2 linked regions of the Homo sapiens genome follow. The protein of the gene in region 1 purifies or fractionates together with the protein of each later gene. This does not show direct contact. Each region holds a gene or a part of one and is shown on either strand. Other genes may lie near its edges.

Region 1 (7,496 bases):
AAGTAAAGGAGGCACACAAAAAACGCATGGTCAGGCTGGGTGTGGTGGCTCACGCCTGTAATCCTAGCACTTTGGGAGGCCAAGGCAGGTGGATCACCTGAGGTCAGGAGTTCGAGACCAGCCTGGCCAACATGGTGAAATCCCATCTCTGCTAAAAATACAAAAATTAGCTGAGCATGGTGGTACGTGACTGTAGTCTCAGCTACTTGGGAGGCTGAGGCAGGAGAATTACTTAAACCCAGGAGGCAGAGGTTGCAGTGAGCCAAGATCACACAAATGCACTCCAGCCTAGGTGACAGAGTGAGACTCTGTCTCAAAAAAAAAAAAAAAGGCATGGTTAGAATGCTATAAGAAGGGCATCATGGCTGGGTGAGGAAGAGAGTGGCAGGACCCACAGCCAGAATTCCCGGAAGGCAGGAATTTGAATTGGCTCTGGGCAGCAAGTGCCTTTCATTATTCTGAGCTTCATATATCCTCATGCTTCCTTTCCTAGGCCTGGCCAAGCCCTTGATGGTCATTCTTAAGTCAAGCTGAACACCAGCTGGCTCTGTGAAGCTCTCTCTTCCTTTCCCAGTCAGTCTGCACTAGCTGTCTTCTTTGAGCTAGCAGATGCTGCCACATACTTTCGCACTTAATTGCGCTCTAATTGTTTCACAGGTGCTGGTTTTGTCTTCCTACTTAGACCTAGGAGCTTTTGGACAGCAGGGACTATGCCTCAAACTTGGGTTTGTCCCAGAGAGCGGAAGACACTATACGCTGTTGCTCTCACATTAAGGGACCAAGGCTGGGAATCACTTAAGCTTCAGAAATCTGATTGAAGCTTTGGATCTGCCTTCTGCATTCTTTTCCACAATGTTAAGAGTGAAACAAACACATCTGGATGCAGTAACTGGACATTCCAGTGCTGTCTGCTGTTTAAGTCTGTTAGTATACAGAGACAAATAAACAGGAGAGTTTTGCTTTCAACACTCAGCAGAGCCAAACTTCCTGATGCACGGGAATGAACAACGGAGGCACTGTTCTGGAAACACCGTCCTCCAGAGAGGCGCTCCCTCCTCAGAAACAACACCGAAAACCTGGCATGGCTGGTTTTGCATTCAGACAATGGCACCTACATGCTTTTTGCTTTGCTCAGAGCTGTAAATATCCAAAGAGGTGATCCTCTGCCATCATTTTGGAAGGAAGAATCAGTCAGACTGATAATTAGGGTCATACGCACAGGCATGGTCATGCTGATTGTTGAAATTTAGATTATTTTTGGCCCAGCACAGTGGCTCACACCTGTAATGCCAGCACTGTGGGAGGCCAAGACAGGCGGATCACCTGAGGTCAGGAGTTTGAGATCAGCCCGACCAACATGGTGAAACCCCATTTCTACTAAAAATACAAAAATTAGACAGGCGTAGTGGTGGGTACCTGTAATCCCAGCTACTTGGGAGGCTGAGGCAAGAGAATCGCTTGAACCCTGGAGGCAGTGGTTGCAGTCAGCCGAGATTGTGTCACTGCAGTCCAGCCTGGGCGGCAGAGTGAGACTGTCTCAAAAAAAAAATTACATATATATATATATATATATATATATATATATATATATAGAGAGAGAGAGAGAGAGAGAGAGAGAGAGAGAGAAAGAGAGAGAGAGAGATTATTTTTGTACTGCTTAGTAATTAGCTTTAGCACGGTCTCTCCTCTGGGACCTCCCCTGGAATTTCCCCACAATCCAGTAACTGAATAATTAGCATCCAGCCCCACAGAACTTCTCCCAGGGCCCTGCTCCAGGGCTTCCCTTCTGACTGGCTGTGCATGGCACACTGGGAATTGTTTTCTGCCCACAAGAACAAGGGTGAACTGAGTCAAGGAGTCCAAGAGATCTTGGACGCACTTCTCAGAATTCGGAGGGGCTGGGTAAATGCAGGAGAAAATTGATGAAACCACATTGGCCCTGCAAGAGCCTGACTGCTCCTGCACGGTAGCTACCCCTAGCATTAGCGGGGAGTCACCAATGCCTCTTCCAGGCACTGAGCAAGAGGGCGGCATTACAGATGCACTTGCCGTCCAAACAGATCATCTCATTGACTAGGTGACTGCTCAGCAACAGTATCTGAAGGACACTAGGGTTACTCTGCTTGTTTGCAGTTCACGGTGCTGGACGGATGTGTTCCCAACACTAGGTAACAACACCGCTCTCCCTCCTCCGGGAGAAAGCCGCAGCCGTCGATTCCCACCCAACAGGGCCTCAGCGCCTTCCCAGGGCAGCACCCTCACTCCTGCAACCACCAATCACCCAAGCCACAGCATGGTCCCAGACCCACCCTCGCCCCTTAGGAAATGGCTTTCCAATTGTGTTTTCACAGGAGCATGGCCACTGGGCAATGATCTTCACAGGCAGGCTTTTTTTTCCCCCTCTCAACATAAAGGCCAGCAATATTTACCACGGAGTCTTGGCCAGTGTGCACTGCCTGGTGCTGTGGGGTGGGGTGTTTAGGGCCTTTTGTTGAGCAGCTCAGTGACTTTCTGGGATTTCCATGGCCCTGCTGGAGATGGCCCTCTGTCTCCCTTTTCCAAGGAAGAAAGTGACTGGGGACAAGCCACCTGCCTCTTCCACAGGGTGGGGGCGAGAGTGACAGCGAGACAGCACAAGAAGGACCCGCTCTGTTTCAAAGCGAGGATGTGAGTGACTTCGTCTGTGCCGAGGTCTCTTCGTCTCCAACCTGCCGGGCACAGGGCACCCACATGACACGCTCACCCCGTCCCTGGGCCGAGGGACCCCACGTCTCGCGGGTGCCGCGGGGCAGAGAGCGCCGCCTAGTGAGGCGGCGCGAGTTGGACATAGACTGGAAAATAGACCCGGACAGCCCGGGAGGAGGGCGGAGAGGAGTCCGACCTCCGCAGGCAGCCGCGTCCCCGCCCCGCGCTGCCTACGACTTAGGGCCCCCGGCCCATCCCCTGCCGCTGCAGGGCGCTCACCTCTGGGACGCCTCCCCGCGCCGCCTGCGCCACGGTTGGCTCCTCCCGGACGCAAAAGCGGCGCCCTCGCTCGGGCTCCTGAAAACCTCGCGGCCCCGCCCACGGAAGGGCCCGCCCACCTGCCAGGCCACGCCCCCGTCTCGGCCACGCCGCAGCTCAGGGTTTTCTCTGAGGGCTGTGAGAGGCTAGGCCCGGGGAGAGGAGGCAGAGGTTATGCTCCGGTCTCTGCAGACTTCCACAGTGTCTATCGAGATCACACATGCCAGCATTGCCCCCTCCCATCCTCTCCTCATCGTACGGAGGAGGAAACCCAGGCCGAAGACCTGAAGTGTCCAAAAGCACAGCCAGGCCAAAGAGAAGCACCATCCCATGTTCTCCCACTCCCACTCCGGTGCTTCTTCAGGTAGGCTAAACTTCAGGCTAAAATGTGAAGATCACAGTGACACATTCCTGTCAGCAGAATCTGCTGCATATGTTTGGGAGCTGGGGTGTTTGGAAGCTCCGATTTTGTGTGGAGGACCCAAGAGAGAAGACAGACCCTTCCTGTCCTATAAGAACAGTGCTCCTCCTGCCCTAACTTCTCTTTTCCTTTTTCTAACTCCCTCTGCCTATGGGGTTTGCTGAAACTTTCAGGAAAAGGGACGTGTCAAAAGAAAGAAATGGACACCCCAGAGGCCGTGCAACCACAGGGTTAAAAGGAGGTAGCCTTATGAGAAAGCGGTGGAGTGGCTTTCTGGGGTGAAACCCAGTTCAAGGACAGAAATAGCACTGTCTTGAGTTAAGACTGGTGGTGGGGGAAGCCTGGGGGTGGGGCGCAGACTGCAGGCGGAGGAGCTCCCTGCCACCTGCCACTTGGGGTGTAATCACAGAGCAGCTGACACTCCCCACTCACTGCCTGGAGGAGCTTGGCGGTGGGATCGGGCAAGGCGGGAAAGATAGGTGTAAAACAAAGCCTGGCACTTAATTACAGTGCAAAGATCTCATTATAGAGTCTTCTCAGCTCCCCTCCTCGGCTGGCAGCTTGAAGCCTGAGTGACAAATTGCCTAGGTAGGTCTCCAAGGGCTGTATGTAGAGGGATGAAACCACCTCCCTGCCCACCCGAACCCCACTGTGGGGGCTGTGGAGAGGGAGGGGATGTTCACACTCTGGCATATGCAGGGGGCAGTGGGGAAGTCTGTAAGGGCACCTAGAAAGCAGTAAGAGCTGGGAGCCACAGTGGCCCTAGCCTGACATAAATAACACCTTGCTGGGGCAAGCCCAGTGTTCCCTCTTTTGGTAGTGGAACCGAGGGCAAGGTTGGGGACAGCTTGACGTGTGGCACTGTTTACTCTGCATCATAGGTGGATGCTGCAAGACCAGCAGGGGCCTGGCTTATCATGCAACTTTGTGAATATGTGGGAGAGAGGAGCCTTCCAGACGGTGTTATGGCCTCCCAGGAACTCCCAAAGCCCCCTCCCCAGGGTGGCATCTGGTTTTGGACACTGGTTTCTGTCACTGAGCTCCAGGGACTCATGTCACACCTGGAAGAACTTTTAGATTCTGTCTGCCTGGCCATGTCTTCCAACAGCCGAGATCATTGAGGAAGATGACAACTTCTACCTGAACAGCCAGGACAGCTTAGGGTCTTCTCACATGTGGACCTTGAAATGCACTTCTGTTATTTTTCTCCAGTATATTCAGGGGAAGGGGGCTGGTGATCAAAGCTTTTGCTGAGCAGGAACAGAAGGGTTGTCACTTGCTTTTTTCTCCACTGAAACCTAGAGTAGCAAACACATCCTCGGGGTGCTATGTGATGCTCACAGGCAGAGCCCTGCCAGAGGTTCCCGTCATTCCCATATATTAAACCTTCAATGTCTTCCCTATGAACTACAAACAAAGTTTATATTCTAGGTCAAAACCCCATCGTCTAGCCCCTGACAACTTCTCTAGGCTTGTCTGCTTCCAGCCCCAACCTCCCAGTCCCCAGCCTCAGCAGCTGCCTTCCACTTGCTTAAGGTCTTCACGCATGCTATTTCTTCTACCTGGAATACTCTTTCTCCATGACTTTGCGTAGCTCACTCCTACCCACATTTTAGTGTTCCCTGTAATGTAACTTCTTCAAAGAGAACTTCCCTAACTCTTCTAATTAAATTAGGTCCCTCCCATTATTCTTCCTCTTTATAACCTATTCTTTTCCTTCACAACTCTCATTTCAATTTATGATTTTACATGGACATGTTTATTGGTTCAAGGTCAGCCTGTCCTTCATACTTAATAGATTTAATAGACTGTAAGCCTCACGAGGGTAGGGGCCATGTCTGATTTGTTCACTTCAAATCCAGTATCTGACAAGTGTCTCCCTATAAATATTTATTGATGAATGAATGAGTGAATGAATGATATCAGCAATCTTTATCTTAAAAGATAAAATTAGAACTCAATAAACTTGTAAACATAAGCAGTAGTGACTATTTCCATTAAAAAAGGTAGCAACCAAAACAAGATTCAAGGAAATACAAATACCAAGGTTTATTAGGTACTTCTTAAAACTAACCATCCATTCAACAAATGTGTATTAAGCTTCCGTAGCCCTTGTGCTTCTTGCCAGAAATACAAATCTAAATACGATCTGGCTCTCAGGAGCTTGCAGCCTGGGGGAGTAGGGTTGGACATGTAAATAAATGGTTATAGTGTAATTTGATAAATGCTGCAATAATATAGGTATCTAACTCTGCCTGGGAGTGCCTATATCTGGGACTTGGTGAAAAAGAAAAAGATGACTTTGTCACCTGGACGGGACAGAGGGAGGGCATTCTGGGCAGGAGACGAATGAAGGAATGTGGCTCATTTGGGGAACTGCCAGTGGTTTGGTAAATGGAGCGCAGGTTGTGTGAAGGATGGAGGCGGTTGAAGAGGTAGGTAGGCAATCACCAGATCCCACGTTCATGCACATGTGTTCTGCTGAGGAGTCTGGGCTATGCTCTGCCTCCCTGTAGGGCTTGGGGATCCACTGGATGGTGTTAAGCAATGGAGTGGCACCACACCTTCATATTTATAGACAAGAAGTTATAACCCTAATGGCAGTGTGTAAAATGAATGGAATGGGGGATGGGATGGTTAGCAGAAAGTAAGCCCAGTTAGGAGGCTACAGCAATTGTCTAAGCAACGATAATAAGAGTCTAAATTAAAGCAGTGGCATTCATTCATCTCTGTTGATATATATTATTTGATGGTTAGTTTTTTGATGATAAATATTTGTTGATGCTTAAAATATATTTTGATGCATAATATTATACCCCATCCCATGCTAGGTGGTAGGGTATAATATTAATAGTCAATATTTATTGAGTGCTTACCATGTGTCCTGTTCTTTTCTAAATACTATACATGCATTAACTGATTCAACCCTCACCACAACCCTATGAATCAGTACTATTATCATCCCCCATTTTACCAATGGGGAAACTGCGGGAGAAGAGGTCATATAACTTCCACTTACTTAGATACCTAATAATTGATGGAGTCAGGATTTGAATCAGGTAATTGGGCTGCAAAATTCATGCTGTTAAGCACCATCCCTTACTGATATTGTGGTAATGAACAAGCTGGACAAGGTCCCTGGTCTCATGGAACTTACATTCTGGCACTGGAGATGTAGAGGAGAAGACAGAGTGGGGCAAGGTTTAGATTGTAGAATCAGAAAAACTGGATCCTTATAAGAGAAAGAGCAGTCAGGGCAAATTCACAAGACACTGGCTTTGTGATTGGTGGATAGTTGTGTCAGTCATGGAGTTAGGAAATACAAGCTAGGGGTGGTAGGGTGGCGGAAGGTGAACTTGGAGGGATGAGTTCATTTTGGGATAAACTGGTGTTGGACTGACTGTGGGATATGGAGGTGGAGCCATCGAGTGAGCAGTTGAAGTCATGTGTCCAGAGCATAGAAAAGATGTTTATATGGAGACAATGGGGGGATCAAAGATGGGGGGACAGTTGGAGACATAGGCGGAAAACAATAGCTAGAAGACAGGCTTAGTCCAAGAGTTCATAAAGGAAAAGATTGATAAATTCAACTGCCTTAAAATGAAGACCTTGTGTTCATCAAAAGACATATTTAAAAGAATAAAAAGATAGGAAACAAAACCAGAGAGATGCTTGCAACACATATAACTGCCACAGCCCAAGCATCCAGATTATCTTCAGAACTCATACAAATCAGTAAGAAAAGTCAGTAGAAAAATGGACAAAAGATACAGGCAGATACTTCATAAAAGAGGAAATATAAGATGACCAATAAATAAATGAAAAAGTACCAAACCTCATTAGAAATCTTAGAAATGCAAATTAAAGCTATAATACATCACATATTATATAAATCATATTGGCCAAAAATAAAATGTCTGACAATAAAAAGTGTTGGTGACGATATGGTGCAAACAGAATTCTCACTTGTTGCTAGTGGAAATGTGAATTGGTATAACCACTTGGTAGAAGTTTGGCACTGTCATGGAAACTTGAAGATTCACATGCCCTAAGACCTAGGAACTCCATGCCT
Region 2 (7,025 bases), on another chromosome or scaffold:
AGAGGATGTCTCTAAAGGATCAGGAAAGGCCCTGGAAATCCAAATGTCACTGCCAAGGGTGGGGGCTGTGAGGGGTGCACTGCATGAGGTGGGGGTGGGAGTGAGTTGGTGGTGACTTTGGGAAGGAAAGGGTAGGCCAGACTAGCATTGAAGCCACATGGAAATTCAGATTTAAGAAACAAAAGAGGCAGCCATAAAAAAAGAACGAAATCATGTCCTTTGCAGCAACATGGAGCTGGAGACCATCATCCTAAGTGAACTAACCCAGAAACAGAAAATCAAATACCACGTGTTCTCATTTGCAAGTGGGAGCTAATCAATAGTATACATGGACATGAAGACAGAAATAACAGACACTGGGGACAGCTGAAGAGGGGAGGGTGGGGTGAAAATTACCTATCAGGTATAAGGGTCACTATTGGATAACGGGTACACTAAAAGCCCAGTCTCCATCACTACACAATATACCCATGTAACAAATATGCATATGTACCCCATGAATCTAAAATAATTAAAAAAAAAAAAAAGGAATAAGAGAGAACCTTGGTTGAGTGCGGTGGCTCCTGCCTGTAATCCTAGCATTTTGGGAGGCTGAGGCAAGAGGGTTGCTTGAGCCCAGGAGTTTGAAACAAGCCTGGACAACATGGGAGGACCCTGTCTATAAAAAATTAGCTGGGCATGGTGGCACACGCCTGTGGTCTCAGCTATTTGGGAGGCTGAGGTGGTAGGATCACTATAGCCCAGAACTCCAGCCTAGGTGACAGAGCAAGACCTTGTCTTTAAAAAAAAAAAAACAAAAAAAAAAAGATGAAGAAGAAGAAAAGAAGTTCCAGGTAACGGGGGTAACCAAACAAAAAACAACATCTAAGAAAGAGGAATTTGGCATCTATATACTTGGGAAGCGGAAAAAGAAGGGGAAAATCAGTGCCTGTGTGTGTTGGGGAAGGGGGTGCTGCTATGGTTGTCTTGAAATGCCTAACCTTGTTTTTACTCTAACTCGCTACTTTGAATTTTATCCTGCTTGTCTCTTTAATCACCTAGCCTTGCTTCTCCTGTAAATAAGACTCTTTCTAGCTGGGAAAGCCAGACAAACTCCAATTGACCCCTTAATTTACAAGACACTAAGGGCTCCTTACCCAACCCCCTTCCGCAAGGAGTTGACCTGTGTAAGCAGATCCTCAGCGTTTCAAAGGAGCCCAATTAACTGATAAGGTACTAGCACCAACAATGTATGAAGTTCCCAGGATTTTTCTTAAAGAGATAACAACATAAAGCCTTGAGTTCGGGTCCGACATACTCCCTATATCTAATTATAATGAAAGATTTAGAGCCTTGCACCTGGTACCGTTGCTCTTTTTGTAACCATTTGTCTTTTAAATTGTTTATCTCTCTGTAACCATTTTGCTTCTTTTGATTCTTGCATGTTTTTACTTCTGTAGAATTATTGCATCTGAGTCCCCCTCCCCTTCCTAAACCAGGTATAAAAGTTAATCAAGCCCTTTCCTCGGGGCCGAGAGAATTTTGAGCGTTAGCCGTCTCTTTGGCCACCCGCTTAATAAAGGACTCTTAATTCGTCTCAAAGTGTGGCGTTCTCACTAACTCGCTTGGGTACAACAGTCTGACATGAGGGACCTGTGCTGAGAAAGAAGAGTTTCTTACTACCCACTATTCAAAATGTAACCAATAAATGGCACCATCTAGAAACGAAGAATCTCAACCCCCACCTTAGAACTAAGGAATCTTATACTGCCTTTTAGTCAGACTGGCAGGCAATTCATAAGCACGTTAAAGTTTGAGAAGCATTGTGTTAGAGCAAAGAATTCAGGACTTCGTGCTTGGTTGGCCATCAGCCACCAGAATAAAGTAAAGTCACGAGGGCGGTCTGGGCTTGGAGAGCTGGGCCCCCCGCCAAGACCCTGAGAACAGAACATTACAGACGTGCACACATCTCTACCCCTCTGCCTGGAATATCCTATTTCATTCTGTGCTTCACAACTCAGAGGCCTCTTTAAGAAGGCTTCCCTGATGTTCTGCCAGCCCCCTACTTCCAGCCTCCCACTTCTACCCCCAAGAGGTGTTGATTCACCCCCTCCTCAGTTCTGTGCCCAAACATCACCCACATTTCTTCTGATGTGCTTGACACACTGGTTTGGACCTGTCAGATTTCTCTCCTTTGGTGACATTCTGCAGTTTATCTCTGAATCTCTCATACCTAGCACAGCGCACCTCTGGTACAAAGCAGGCTCACCACAAGTGCATGCTGAAATGAATTCAACAGAATTGAATTACAGAGACAATGGCTTATGGACAACTAAAGTTCTTGGGACAAACAGGAAAGAACCTGCCACAGGCCTGCTTCCAATTCTTTAATTTGACAAAGTTACACATTACTGGATGACAGTTCACAGAACAATTAGGAGGAAAACCACAGCTCTTATCTGCTTGCTGTAAACAAGAGATTTCCCAGAGCCTGGAACAACTTCTGTACCTTTATGCACTTCCAAAATGTTCCTGGATTTCTGACTTGTGTTATGACTCAGGAGCACATAGAATGGTCTCTGATCACAGATTTGATGGGCATTTCTGCGTCAGTATACAAAGACCAGTTTACATCTATCCCACAAATGGACTCTGACTCCTAGGACACATCAGTGCATTCACAAAGTCCAGGGCCCCTCACAGTCAGCTCCACATTCTTCCAACACACCCCTGCCACACTCAAACAGCCTCCACCTTCCCACTGTCCAGTGATGGGCGTTTGGCATGTTTGCTCCTAGGCACAAGAGAATTCAACTCAACTAGACTCAACATTTATTTCCAAACATTTATTCAGTACTGACCTGTTCAATAAATGGCGATTTGGGAGGACATAAAATGATACACAATCCTCAAGAAAATATGGACCTGGTACACAAATAACAAAAAAATATCAAGTGGGAAGGTGAGGCAGCTTGGGCAATGTATGGGCATGAGGCTATGGTGGTGCAGGAATAACAGCCAGTCTGGGTAGCCACAGAAGCACCCAGAAGGAAGTGGCTTTGGAGCCGGTGTAGGACACAGGAGGCAGCATGGACAGGCTAGGCTGGGATGGGGCCAGCTAAGCTGGGAGACAGCAGGCTGACTGGGGCAGGTGTCAGTGCTGAAGGAACCCTGAGAACTCAAACCTCTATGTTCCAAAGACCCCCATCTCCATACCTCAAGTTCAAGGGCTGGGTACAAGATCCAGACCTCAAAACCCCCATAAGTGCTGTCTTCTGACCTCCCACTGTGATCCTGAAAGTGTGAGCAGAGATTCAGCCCTCTGGGGCAGTGGACCCCATCCTCAGGCACTGCAGCACCATGCTGAGAGTGTTATCAGGACCAGTGGTGAGCATCAGGCCTCTCCATGGACAGACCGCACCCAGTGGGCCTCTAGCAGCCCACTCTTGTGCCAGAGAGAAGCACAGAAAATTCACTTCCAGGAATACCTGGAGAGCACACAGGCCTAGCCTCTTATCCAAGTCCCCTGGGCTACAAAGCAACTCCCATCCTGGCATGTCTTGAAGCACGTACTACTGTGACTTGCTGCACAGTGAGCAGACCCTGAATTCTGAAATCACAATTTTTCCTACACACAAAAAAGGACAATCAAAGGAATTTTAATTTCTAAACAGAAATGATGCATTTTCACATGGGTCTCTAAGATTGCAGAGGTATGGAGGCCAGCAATCCTTCGTACCTCTGCAGCCAGTCGTCTTAGAAGCTGTCAGTAATGGCCTAATTTCATTCACTCAACAGTCTTGTGATGCAAAGATTATCCTGTTTAGCAGCTAACACTGAGGTTCAGAGTTCAGTAACTTCCCTGTGTCACAGAGCCAGCAGGCAGCAGTACTACAACCTGGACCCAAGTCAACAGGAATAGGACTCCAAAGCCTGAAAGACTACCTTTCCTCGCCACACATTCAGAAGTGGGTTTACATCTGCTGTAATTGTTGATTAACAAAGAAAAGAAGAAAGAAGTCGGTCCTGGAGATCCAGGAGTATGATTCCCTCTGTCTTAAAGAGAATGTGTTTTTAATCACCTTGTTTTTTCAGTCATCGTGTACAGTCAAACCATGTTTACTCTAAAGGAAATTTACCATACACCAGATGTTCCTTCTCTTTCCTCCCCCTTTCTATCCCCCCTTCCATTAAGGAAAGGGTCAGTTTCTCTGAAACAGAATAGTAGGGTTGTTTACAGAAGAGCCAGCCCCCACCTGACACAGCTATAGCATTCAGTTCCCCACTGCTGGGCTTATCTGATCCACCCTCTCCCACAGAAGGTGAAGTAGGATAAAGCCACAAACAAACAACAGCTGTGGCAGCTCAGAGTGGCAGCTCTGGTCTGAACATGGGTGCAAGAGGACGAGACCCAGTCGGGCTCCCTAGGCTAAGCTGAATCAATTCCTCCCCAGGCCCCATTTTTCTCAACTCCATGAGGAAGTTCCTAATGATCCCCAGTGACATCCTATGAGTCTAACAAAAACAGGTCACTTTGGAGTCAGAACATTCTAGGCTCCTCAACACTGCCCCCACCGCCCCAAATTCAGTTTCCAGCTTCGAGACCCTGTCTCTTTCCTATACAAGGCAACTCCCTTCCTCAAACGGTCTCTTACCCCCAACCTCAGACGCTTCAAACTTGGGAACAAGGCACTCACCATACACAGCGTCCACACCTCTGCTTCTCTTGACAAAGAAGTATATCCAGGGGTGAGCAGACGGGCCTGGGCAGGCGGCAAGGGGAGGGCTGGAGGCGGGACTAGGTCCCTAGGCTCAGTCACTCCATAGGCAGGACCAGGCCACCCAGAAACCCTGGGGCTCCTTCAGCTGCCAACAGTCAGTCTCCAGAAAACATCTAAATGGAAAGCTGCCAAGGCCCCCTAGCCCTTCAAAAAGTTGAGCAAAGCTTTGAGTCATTTGCAGTCATGCAGATTATAACATTTCCCAAGTGCCACCAGACTCCTCTGCTATCCGGTGCAGACTAAAGAAGCAAAGCTCGTAACACAGCCCACATGTCATACTAGCGCAAATAAAAGAAGATGTCCTTTTCTCTGTGGCTCCTCGTGCAGCCTGCTCCCTTGCCCCATTCCTCACCCCAGGCCTGGAAAGTCAGCTGGCACCTCTGAGGCCCCTCATCTGCTGTCTATTCTTTACCTCCTTTTGCTTTCCCTTCCTTTTCTGCCACATCGGTGGCTTCCCTCAACCCACACTCCCTTCCTGGGTGACTTCCAGCACTTCTCCCACCACTTTGTTATTGACTTCCAAGTTCCTATTGCTGTTCTGACCCAAAGTTTCCACTTGGGGGTTTTGTAGGTGTCTTGGTTGTACCACATCCAAAACTAAAGTCGATTTCTCTGCTGGAGTTCCATGGCTCAGTAGATGGGGGGGCAGGGAGGGGGGACAGTGGGGGACAGGGGTTCACATTTTACTGTTCATTTGCCTTCACTGCCTACATCGACTCAGGAAGTTCTGTCCATCTTCTAAAATGTATCTGCTACCCATCCTCTTCTCGACCTCACTGCTGCTGCCCAAACCCAGGATCCTATAACTCTGTCCCTAGCCTATTTCAAGAACCACAGAATGAATCTGGCTTGGTTCTAGTCTGGTCCTCTATAGTTTATTTTCCAAGCCGTAGTCAGAGCGATCCCAGCACACCCCCACCTGATTACACCTTTCCCTTGTGTTCAGACTCTCACTAACAATAAACTCCTCAGCAAGCCAGCTGATGGGGCCCTCCACAGCTTGGCTTCAGCAAGTGTTGCTCATGTTGTTTCCTTTGCCCGGGATGCCCCCCTCTGACCCAGGCCAACCACGTAAATGCCTACTTATTCATAAGGCCCAGCACACATAACACTTCCTCTCCAAAGCCTTTCCTGAAAGCCCTGACAACTGACTGCTCACTGACCTCTTCTATAGCGTGCATGTGTGTGCGCACACACCCATAACCCTGCACAATGCACAAATGAATTGTGTAAATTTTAGTTATTTACATGTCTGTCTCCACAATATGTTGGCACAATGTGTTGTCGTCTTCATTCCTGCATCCCCAGCACTCAACACAGATCCTGGTAATTATCAGGCATTAAATGTTAATTAAATTATCTGAATTTTACTCTTAGAATTCCACAGTGAGGCAGACTTGGAACTTATAACTACTCAATTCCAATTTCAGTTCAGTATGAAAGGCAATTTTGGACAGGGCTGGCTTGATATTAAAGAAAACACTCTAGCTTGGGACTTAGGTAACCTTAGGCTGGGTCCTCGCTCTACTGCTCACTAGCAGGGCAATCTGACTTAAGGTATGAAGACACTCGGGGCCTGGATCTCATCATCTATACAGAGGAAGGAACTCAAAATTCTATGAGGTTGTCTTAGCTCTGACATCCAAAGACTCTAAAGTACCATGTGACTGCAACTACAGGGATCTGATGTCTAGAAAGCCATGGGAACCCCTGCCACCACTGTTCTTCTGCTGGGTGTGCACATTCACCCTGCCTCCTTTGCTGGGCCTAACTCCTGACTGTTCCAGGAGCTGCCTCTGGGCAGGAACTGATAAAGTCTTAATGAAACAAAGTATCAGCACTGGCTGAGTTAAATCATGTCTGAAACAAGTAGAGACAGCATCATATTCTAAACATCAAGGGTACACCTGCCCAGCCCAGCCCCACCCAGGGAATCGTCCCTCTTCAGAATGAGCTGGCCTGAGGCAGAGATAGGGGAGAAGCAAGAAAAGGTGCTGAGGGAGACAAAAAACTAAGAGTGCACATGGGCCTCCTTGCCTCAGGCCCTCAGTGAACAAGTCTTGAAAGGATGCTTCATCTTCCTTCTCTGGTCTCCTCTGTTTCCCTCTCCTTCCCTCAAAGCGCTGGTTCAGCTCATTTTACTGAGCAAATGAAGAAACTAAAGCTCAGAGAAGGAGCTGGCTAGTCCAAGGTCACATGGGCAGGGCAGGTTGTCAGTGGCTGCACTGGGACTCAGGTTTGGGTCTCCCAACTTCCAGTCCATGA

What was found. Proteins that work in one complex are often made in the same cells at the same time.
Region 2: the proteins of TLR5 (region 1) and PRXL2A purify together in Homo sapiens (affinity purification with mass spectrometry; 2 studies listed by BioGRID and IntAct, with this or other methods). This does not show direct contact.

Annotation. Positions count from the first base shown.
Region 1 is NC_000001.11:223,140,232-223,147,727, forward strand, and holds the start of TLR5 (toll-like receptor 5 precursor), read right to left. Parts: upstream 3,018-7,496; 5' UTR 2,965-3,017; exon of another isoform or gene 2,430-2,964; intron 1,533-2,429; 5' UTR 1,417-1,532; intron 1-1,416. UniProt on the Homo sapiens protein: Pattern recognition receptor (PRR) located on the cell surface that participates in the activation of innate immunity and inflammatory response.
Region 2 is NC_000010.11:80,411,528-80,418,552, reverse strand, and holds part of PRXL2A (peroxiredoxin-like 2A isoform 1 precursor), read right to left. Parts: intron 4,721-7,025; exon of another isoform or gene 4,680-4,720; coding exon of another isoform or gene 4,677-4,679; intron 1-4,676. UniProt on the Homo sapiens protein: Involved in redox regulation of the cell. Acts as an antioxidant. Inhibits TNFSF11-induced NFKB1 and JUN activation and osteoclast differentiation. May affect bone resorption and help to maintain bone mass.